Linked DNA regions of Homo sapiens. The protein of the gene in region 2 purifies or fractionates together with the protein of the main gene of each other region. This does not show direct contact. Each region holds a gene or a part of one and is shown on either strand. Other genes may lie near its edges.

Evidence for each region.
Region 1: the proteins of FLRT1 (region 2) and PCDH17 purify together in Homo sapiens (affinity purification with mass spectrometry; 2 studies listed by BioGRID and IntAct, with this or other methods). This does not show direct contact.
Region 3: the proteins of FLRT1 (region 2) and AXL purify together in Homo sapiens (affinity purification with mass spectrometry; one large-scale study listed by BioGRID and IntAct). This does not show direct contact.

What each region holds. Positions count from the first base shown.
Region 1 is NC_000013.11:57,638,224-57,641,878, reverse strand, and holds part of PCDH17 (protocadherin-17 precursor), read right to left. Parts: intron 1-3,655. UniProt on the Homo sapiens protein: Potential calcium-dependent cell-adhesion protein.
Region 2 is NC_000011.10:64,034,331-64,038,085, forward strand, and holds the start of FLRT1 (leucine-rich repeat transmembrane protein FLRT1), read left to right. Parts: upstream 1-1,600; 5' UTR 1,601-1,829; intron 1,830-2,351; exon of another isoform or gene 2,352-2,445; intron 2,446-3,755.
Region 3 is NC_000019.10:41,259,720-41,262,396, forward strand, and holds the end of AXL (tyrosine-protein kinase receptor UFO isoform 1 precursor), read left to right. Parts: coding exon 1-185; 3' UTR 186-2,047; downstream 2,048-2,677. UniProt on the Homo sapiens protein: Receptor tyrosine kinase that transduces signals from the extracellular matrix into the cytoplasm by binding growth factor GAS6 and which is thus regulating many physiological processes including cell survival, cell proliferation, migration and differentiation.

The DNA.
Region 1 (3,655 bases), on a different chromosome or scaffold from region 2:
AAAGCTTGTTAACTTAAATGGTCTTTTATTGTTATGATTCGTTTTCCCGTAATTATGCTGTTTAACTGCCTTATTTTTTTGAATAAATATATGCAAACGCGCCAATCATATTCAGCACAGTTATGCTAGATGCTCAATGAACTGTAAGAACCATTTCACTACAATAAAACTGCTTGGAATAGATCCAGGGCAAGGCCTACAAATACCAGTAATCAGAATGTCACTAGGACCAGAACAGATGAATAGAAGTATGTCATATATATATATATATATATATATATATATATATATTTTTTTTTTTTTTTTTTTTTTTTTTTTTTCTCTCAAACACTGTCTGAAACCAATTTTATAGTCTATCCCCGGAAGAACTTGGTACATACAAGCAAAGGATGCCACCCACAGAGCCACAATTTTTCATCTATATTTTGTTATGGGATTTTTGCGTGTTTTTTTTCTTTTTTTTTGCTTTACCTTAAATATATTGATCTTAGTATTTCTGCAGTAGCAAGGAAATAAAAGCATGCTTCTGCTTAGTCACAGTAGGGATGTTGATGTCATTAAGGACTTCTTTATTGTAGATAACTTATTCCAGAAGACCAAAGATCGCAGTATATCATTGTCAAAGCTAGTGGTGAAAGCTTATGACTAACTATAAAATACTGTATGTCATTGAAGAAAATTATTGTCAAAGCCTCCTTTACTAAAGTAGGTTGACAATAGGTTAATGCAGGTCTGACGAAGTTTAAAAGTGCTTTGTAGGTGGGTTGCAGAAGTCACATTATCTTCAAAATGATAGGCAAAAGGAACTTTATGCTATTCTCTAACTAATATACAGTCATTGATTGAAGGAATTTAATACACAAAAAATCCCTCCCTAATGGCTTTACTAAAATACAACCTTAAGATAATGCCCTATGGGATTTATTAAACAGAAGTACCACTGAGGGGAATACATTCTAGTGCAATGACTAATATTGTAATTAGCGGGTGCATTTGTAAGAATTTACCCACTATTGAGTGTATTGCAAGACTTCTCAGCATTAGGGAGTTAAGTTTTACTTCCTAACTGGCATGGGCCCAGTTATAGTGGCTTCTTCTTCCTCCTGTTGTTGTTTCATCATCAGGCTCACAGCATACATTCTCACATGCTTCCAGCTCTCCTGCCATCTTCTCAAAAGAATCAGGAACTTGGGTGAGATTTTTGTTTCTCTTCGTCTACATAGGCTTCAACCTATTGCCCACTGAAGGCCACGTGTTAAGTCCCCCCGCTCTAGGGTCACTAGCTCTATTTTATGGGACTTCAAATTGTTTGAAACTTTAAAACAGTAAAATAAAGCTTCAACATATTTTCAAAGAAAAATAAAAGCTTGAGCTGTTCCTTAGAGAAGAAATACTTTTGAACTAAAATGTATAAAATTGGACTAGTATTTGTGCTTGAGCAAGTACTTACATACACTATATTGAAAATATAAAGACATATACATTTATACACATATTTAAATTTACCAAAAAATTATTTGTATATTTTCATAAATACAGGCATAGCCAAATTTCACTGCAATAAATGCATGTGAATTTTCATTAATCTTAAATATATTTTTTCTTAATGTATGCCCTTTATATTTGTAGATACATTTCTATTGTGTTATAGTACATAAGCAGCAAGCAGCACTAACAGTGAAAAACTTGAAACCTGAAACCCAAGAATAGTCCTGAAACATGATAAAATATAAATGCTATATTTTTAAACAGGATTAAATATTACCTGAAATTTTTGAAGGTTTTTTCCTCTTAAAATATGTGTATTTCTTAGTTTTTTGAAGAGAGATGATATTTGGGATTATTTTAACCTCATATACAAAATCTGCATCTATGCACTTGAAAAAAGTGAATGATATATGTTATAGCATCAACTTTATGGAGAAAACATTCTGGAAAATTGGGGGATTTTGTGTGTTTAGTATGTTGAACAATATAGTCAAAGGTGGTAATGTAAATTTTCTCATGACTGAAACAGTATATTCAGGTAGTTGAGGTAACAATTTTAGGGCATACTTTTCTATGCCGATCTTTTCATGATCACACACAGCCTTAAATAACATGAAGATGCCAAGACTAAAATTCCAAATTTTTTGGCATATACTTACATATGGTAATATTTATTGAAATTATAGAACTCACACAACTCAAGTAAAATTAAAAATTATCTTACTCCTGACATTTTCAAAAGACTGAAGGATTATAATCTCAATACAAGAATGGTAAAATATTACCTAGCTTGCATTTTGAAAATTTTATCGAAAACCAAAAGCTAATGGAATCAAGAAGTTAATACATTACAAAGAGTTATATTAGTTAATATTAAAAACAAGATTCTCTGGTTTCTAGCTTTATACTTTCTGTGTTTTCATTTATTGGGAAATAGAGAAATGCCACATTAAAATTGGAGCTAAAATTTTCATAAATGCATATAAAAATAAAAGTAACAATATAATAATGATGATAACAATTTTTGGACTTTTAGGGGTTATAAACTCTTCTCCAAAAAAACTCTAAACATTGAATATCTGATTATATTTTAAATTAAGTTTATTTACTTTACACTACTTTTAATGCCTGATAAAACAGAAAAAGAAATATGTAATTATTGTGTACTCTCAAGTAGGAATTACTCATTCTACCTTTTCAAAATATTTAAGAAAAAGGATGAGTGAACTAAACAATCCAGAAGGCACAGAGTAAGAAAGGGACATTCCTTTCCTACTCAAGATACCAGAATGCCTACAAGTAGAGATGTATATATAGTTTATGGAAACTAATGCATATACTAATTAAAGAGCTGTCTTAGAATAAAAATCATAGCAAAATATCTCCAAAATTATAAATACCAAAATAAATTGTTCACGCACTTTGTATTTGTTACTGAAATCATTAATAGGCTAGAGTATGAAATTTTGAAGATCATGATCTTGGGAACTTATCTGAATAAGTCCCCATAGTGAAGATCTTCCTGTACTAGAGCAAAGTGGGAATAAAGGCATACAGCGGGTAATGTTGCTATTAAAGATGGAGTCTCCTTTCACCTTTTTACTCTGCAATATTGAGTTTATTGTTTACACTATGATACGTTAGTCCTCTACACTTCAATATCATTTTTATATATTTGGATTGGCTCTAGGTATTTACCATATGCTTAATTCCCTGTTATTGAAAAGGCCATGTACATCTATCAAAAGGATTTTATCTTCCTAGCATAAAGACTCTAAAGTCAACCCAAATGTGAATCGTTTGAAATTGATTTGTAAAACACTGAGTAAGAATGTATTCCTTTTCAAAATTTATTTTAGTAGATCTTATTCTGCTGGCTCAATGTATTTCCTTCTATGAGAGCATATTAAAATGATTTGTAGTAGTGCTACAAAAAATGTGAAAACACAGATGTTCAAACAAAACTGGGAAGTCTCCCATCAGTGAGAAGTCCCCAGCCTCCTCCTCTCTTTCCTACAAGGCCTTCATTGAAAACACCTGTTGAGAAGTCACCCTGAGACTTAGCACTTAATTCTTGATAAATCACGATAAGCAGTTATTCTTGAGAACTAGTAATAAACTCTTTACTTGACTTTAGATTTCATATTAACACATAAAATAATTCACA
Region 2 (3,755 bases):
AGGGCGGTGGCATTGTGGGTGATTTTTCTTTCTTTTATTGTTGGTATAATGCTGTTTGGGCAATAAATAAAAATTGGGAGGAAAAAATAGCTGTTTGGTGAATTGAGTAGAAATTGGGAGAAAGAAGAAAGGGAGTTAAGGGGAGGGAAATTAGAAGGGTGAAGTGAGGAGGGAGAGGCAGGAAGGGCAAAGACAGGCGCATGCAGAGCGCACAGAGGCCAGAGGCGGCGGCCTCAGGCTAGGCCCCAGTCTGTTCCCGGACTGGGCGCAAGAGGGCTGGGTTTGCACAGGGAAAGGAGGGGGAGAGGTGCTGGAGTCTCTGTAGGGGGGACCCTCCCCAAGGGGATCTGGGAGGGCATCCCAGAGGGGAGGTGGCCCCCAGGCCTCGATGGACAGCAAAGAGCAGGGCCGGCAGAGGGGGTCCCAGCCAGACTGTGGGCGGTCTGAGGGTGGATCAGGAGCACTGGGGCCCTGGTGGGGGCTCTGGGCAGGCTTGGGACTCAGAGCAGCCACTGACAAGGTGATGAGGTCTGACCAGGGCAGGCCAGGCTGGGTATATGGGAGAGTCCCTTACTTAGTGTCCCAGCGAATGCCAAGAGCACGGGGACTTTCAGGCTAAGAGGAGGCTGTCTGGTCTAAACACTCCCTCACCCCACCCGGATGCCACCCACAGGCATGAACATCTTCCCAGTCTCTAATAGGTGCCAGGCACTGGGCCAGCCACCCTCCCATTCAAGGTCTTCTTCATCTCTCACAGTAACCTTTGGAGCTAGGTAGTAACGGTCCCATTTCACAATCCAGGACACTGAGGCTGGGAGAGGTTCAGCAACTTGGCCAAGGTCACAGTCAGCTGGGGATGGGAGGGGGCGCTGGCATGGGACCCTGGCACTGCCCCCTTAATAGGTGGGAGGGGTATTGCTGGGGAGCGCCCGGGTGTTTACAGCACGCGGCGGATGAGAGGGTCTGCCCAGGGAAGGGGCGCCAGGCAGGAAGGAAGGGGTTACTTTGGCATGCAGAGTAGGCGGTGGGTACCTGTTTGTGAATGAATGCACGGGTGGACGGATGAATGAATGAATGAATGAATGGATGGCTGGAGGGATGGTTGAATGAGTGGGTGCGGAGAGGAGGGTGCTGGGGAGGCGGCGCGTGAGCTAGAACCCCTTTCTCCCCCGCCTCCACGGTGGAGGTTGGCTTTGGGAGCCTCCCTCCCCCAACTCCCCAGAGGGGTCGGCTCCCCCACCCGCCCTTCCCCCAGCCAGTTTAGCCGAGGGCGGGGGAGGGGGGCGCGGAGGCCGCTTCTCCCCGGCTGGGCCAGAATCCCCGCGCGGCGGCGCAGCCTCCCGCGCCGGGTCCCGCCGGCCAGTGCGCAGCGCGGCGCCCCCGTCCTCCTCCCCCTCCCCTCCTCCTCCTCTCCCTCCCCGCTCCGCGCCTGCACGCACGGCCCCCGCCGCCGCCGCCGCGAGGGGAGAGGCGGCCGCACAGCCTGGTTCCCCGCGCCCTGCTCGCCGCCGCCGCTCGCGCGGGCACCGCCGCTGGTCCCCGCCCCGCCGCCGAGCGCACCCGCCCGGGCACACGCACCCCGCCGCTGGACGCACCCCCCGCACTCCTCCCGCGGCTCCGCCGGGCGCCCGAGCCGGGCAGATGCGCCGCCGCGCGCCCCCCGCTCCGGGCCCGCCACCGTGCTCTGCCGCGCGCCGGGGGCTCCTCTCCCGGGCCCCCCTGGGCGCCCTCCGGCTCTGGTTCCCGCCCGCTCCTTGGAATAACCCCTGAGGCTCCAGCCGTCACCGCAAAGTTTCCCGAGGAGACCCGCCTCCCCGGCCGCTGCGCAGGTAGGGCTGGCTGCACCGGGCGGGGGTCGGGGTCCGCGCGTCTGGGACAGGGCGCCAGAGCCGACGGGGCGGGGGCCGGGGGCCCGGGGGCACCGAAGCGCCACGGGGTCAGGCAGCCTGGCTTTGCCCCAGAGCGGCGGGAGATGGGACGCCCAGCCTTTGGGATTTGGGGTGGGGGTCCCTGAGTCAAGAGCCAAGCACCAGTAGCGGTGGCGCTGGCCCCGCCGCGGGGAGGCGCGGGGTGCGCGGCCGGCGGCTCAGCTCTCCCGAGCCGAGGCTGGAAAGGGCGGGGGCTCAGCTGGAGCTCTAGTCCAAGCCCTCGCTGCACCCCCCAGGGAGGGGGCCTGGCCCGTGGGGGGCGTCAGGCCGGTCATGTGGGTCCCAGCTCCCGCACTCGGGAACCGGAGGAGGGCGCGCGGCCAGGGACAGCCGGCCGGCCTGGGCGCCGCGCTCCCGTCCCCACCAGCCGCGTGAGTCACGGTTGGAGCGAGGTTTTATTTTTAAAACGACTTCAAGGGGGGCATGAGCAGCCTCCAACTTCCCTCCCTGTGCGCGCTGTGGACCGTCAGCCCTGAGCCGGGCGGGGGCTGGGGCCGTACACCTGGCGGCTGGAACGGTGAGACCATGGTGCCTGGGCGGGGGGCGGCGGGCACCCCCCATCCCCCAGCTCTCAAGACAAGGAGGCGGCCCGACCCGGCGGCGCACGCCCCTCCTCGCGGGCACTGGAGACCCCGGGGAGGAAGGCTGGGGAGTGTTGTCGCCCAGCTGCAGGGAACCGTGGTTGATCAGAGCTCCCCGAGGAGGAGAAAGTTGTGGAACAGGGACACCAGGGAGCTGCCACAGCCTTCCCGGTGGCCCCGGGAGGTCTTCGAGGCCCTCCAGGGTGGGCAGTTTTGAGAGAATACAGCCCAGCTGGGGTGTGCCAGGCCCCCGAGGCCCAAGCCAGAGCTCTGATGTGAATAAATACAGCCAAGGCTGGGGACGGAGGTGAGGGGTGACTGAGAACAGCCCTGCCTCACCGCGGCCCCTACGCCCTCGGGTTGGATGGAAACCAGCCCCTCCACATCCCCCTCCCCAGGTGGCTCAGGAGTTAGGAAGGAGGCTGTCTGTGGGGGGGACCCACGATGCCACTGTGGAGGGAGGTGGCTGAGGCACCCTGTCTCTGCCCGGCGGCCGCGGGGGAGGCAGCCGCCGCGCTCAGGGGCTCCAGATTCCAGTTTCTGGAGTTGAAAGCTACTGCATCTCTTCCGCCAGCCCCGGGAGGAGAGGCGCAGACATCACCTGTCAGCTGGTGCTGACTCCGTGGGCGACTGTTCAGGGCTTCCTCAGAAGGTTTAAAATGGAAATGGCCTGAGCTGACAGGGCCCGTGCCTGGGAGGGGACGCTGCCTAGCTGGGCCAGCAGTGAGGGGGCCCTGGTAGGTGTGAGGGGCAGGAAGAGCTGAGGGCTGTCACATATCTGGCTGAAGGGTCGGCCATGGGCACAGGGTGTGTGTGTGTGTGCGCACCCAGTCCCATGTTCTTTCCCAGACACAGAGACTGGATACTCTTCAGTAAAAAGCACCCTGACCCCAGCATGGAGGCTCCGTAGCCCACACCCCCAAGGCAGCTGTGGCCTGCTGGACTTCACCTAGACCTGGGTCTGTGCATCCGCACTCTACCATTTATTGGTCCCTCCACCTCCCTGTGCCTCAGTTTCCCTTGTTGGTAAAATGGGATTGATAGTGCCACCTCCTGAGCCTGAGCCAGGGTGCTGCTTTGTAAGTGCATTTGACGCATGTTGTTAGTGGTCCTGCTCCTGGACTGGAGGATTCTCAAGGGCTGAGGGTATCTGCAGGGACTTCAGAGGGTCGGGGGGTCGGATTTTCCCACCACCAGCCAGTGTGCTGTCACTGGACTTCATCCTCACGCTGGCCCTCAGTGGCAG
Region 3 (2,677 bases), on a different chromosome or scaffold from region 2:
CTGGAGCTGCAGGAGGAGCTGACCCCCCAACCCAGCCAGACCCTAAGGATTCCTGTAGCTGCCTCACTGCGGCTGAGGTCCATCCTGCTGGACGCTATGTCCTCTGCCCTTCCACAACCCCTAGCCCCGCTCAGCCTGCTGATAGGGGCTCCCCAGCAGCCCCAGGGCAGGAGGATGGTGCCTGAGACAACCCTCCACCTGGTACTCCCTCTCAGGATCCAAGCTAAGCACTGCCACTGGGGAAAACTCCACCTTCCCACTTTCCCACCCCACGCCTTATCCCCACTTGCAGCCCTGTCTTCCTACCTATCCCACCTCCATCCCAGACAGGTCCCTCCCCTTCTCTGTGCAGTAGCATCACCTTGAAAGCAGTAGCATCACCATCTGTAAAAGGAAGGGGTTGGATTGCAATATCTGAAGCCCTCCCAGGTGTTAACATTCCAAGACTCTAGAGTCCAAGGTTTAAAGAGTCTAGATTCAAAGGTTCTAGGTTTCAAAGATGCTGTGAGTCTTTGGTTCTAAGGACCTGAAATTCCAAAGTCTCTAATTCTATTAAAGTGCTAAGGTTCTAAGGCCTACTTTTTTTTTTTTTTTTTTTTTTTTTTTTTTTGCGATAGAGTCTCACTGTGTCACCCAGGCTGGAGTGCAGTGGTGCAATCTCGCCTCACTGCAACCTTCACCTACCGAGTTCAAGTGATTTTCCTGCCTTGGCCTCCCAAGTAGCTGGGATTACAGGTGTGTGCCACCACACCCGGCTAATTTTTATATTTTTAGTAGAGACAGGGTTTCACCATGTTGGCCAGGCTGGTCTAAAACTCCTGACCTCAAGTGATCTGCCCACCTCAGCCTCCCAAAGTGCTGAGATTACAGGCATGAGCCACTGCACTCAACCTTAAGACCTACTGTTCTAAAGCTCTGACATTATGTGGTTTTAGATTTTCTGGTTCTAACATTTTTGATAAAGCCTCAAGGTTTTAGGTTCTAAAGTTCTAAGATTCTGATTTTAGGAGCTAAGGCTCTATGAGTCTAGATGTTTATTCTTCTAGAGTTCAGAGTCCTTAAAATGTAAGATTATAGATTCTAAAGATTCTATAGTTCTAGACATGGAGGTTCTAAGGCCTAGGATTCTAAAATGTGATGTTCTAAGGCTCTGAGAGTCTAGATTCTCTGGCTGTAAGGCTCTAGATCATAAGGCTTCAAAATGTTATCTTCTCAAGTTCTAAGATTCTAATGATGATCAATTATAGTTTCTGAGGCTTTATGATAATAGATTCTCTTGTATAAGATCCTAGATCCTAAGGGTCGAAAGCTCTAGAATCTGCAATTCAAAAGTTCCAAGAGTCTAAAGATGGAGTTTCTAAGGTCCGGTGTTCTAAGATGTGATATTCTAAGACTTACTCTAAGATCTTAGATTCTCTGTGTCTAAGATTCTAGATCAGATGCTCCAAGATTCTAGATGATTAAATAAGATTCTAACGGTCTGTTCTGTTTCAAGGCACTCTAGATTCCATTGGTCCAAGATTCCGGATCCTAAGCATCTAAGTTATAAGACTCTCACACTCAGTTGTGACTAACTAGACACCAAAGTTCTAATAATTTCTAATGTTGGACACCTTTAGGTTCTTTGCTGCATTCTGCCTCTCTAGGACCATGGTTAAGAGTCCAAGAATCCACATTTCTAAAATCTTATAGTTCTAGGCACTGTAGTTCTAAGACTCAAATGTTCTAAGTTTCTAAGATTCTAAAGGTCCACAGGTCTAGACTATTAGGTGCAATTTCAAGGTTCTAACCCTATACTGTAGTATTCTTTGGGGTGCCCCTCTCCTTCTTAGCTATCATTGCTTCCTCCTCCCCAACTGTGGGGGTGTGCCCCCTTCAAGCCTGTGCAATGCATTAGGGATGCCTCCTTTCCCGCAGGGGATGGACGATCTCCCACCTTTCGGGCCATGTTGCCCCCGTGAGCCAATCCCTCACCTTCTGAGTACAGAGTGTGGACTCTGGTGCCTCCAGAGGGGCTCAGGTCACATAAAACTTTGTATATCAACGAGCTTCTGTCTCCTCTTGTCTCCTTTTAGCTGTGATGTGGCCCCATTCCCTGGCAATTCAGTTCCCCCATCAGAAAAAAGAAGGGCTTGGTAGGGTCTTGGAATTCTGTCCTCACTAGAGAGGGTAGAAATGAACACACAGATAGACAAAAAGACATACAAGCAAAGAGATGCAGGTTCTCAGAAACCCCCAGTGAGGAACTGGCATACAGATCCAGGATCACAGACACACACACACACACACACACCTGTTCCGCCGCAAACTAACAGACACATGAATTAATGGACACACCCAGGAGGACCTGGTCACAAATACAGAGACTGAAACTCAGACGCATAGAGTAACACAGACACACAGAATTACACAGACACAAGCATATTTACAAACATGCTCAGGCAGATACCCGCCACGAATAGGAAGAGACACAGACCTAGAGTCAAGTGACACAAATACTCAAGAGACATGTAGAGTACAACAGGTACTCACAACCCCGAACGTTCAGACTGACATAGAAACACAGGCACAGAACACCTCCGATCATCACGGACCCACAAAGGGCCTCCAGCGAAGACCAGCCCACCGTGTCTGGCACGCACTCGCGAGCGGGCGTTCGCGGGTGTGGCCGGCAGCA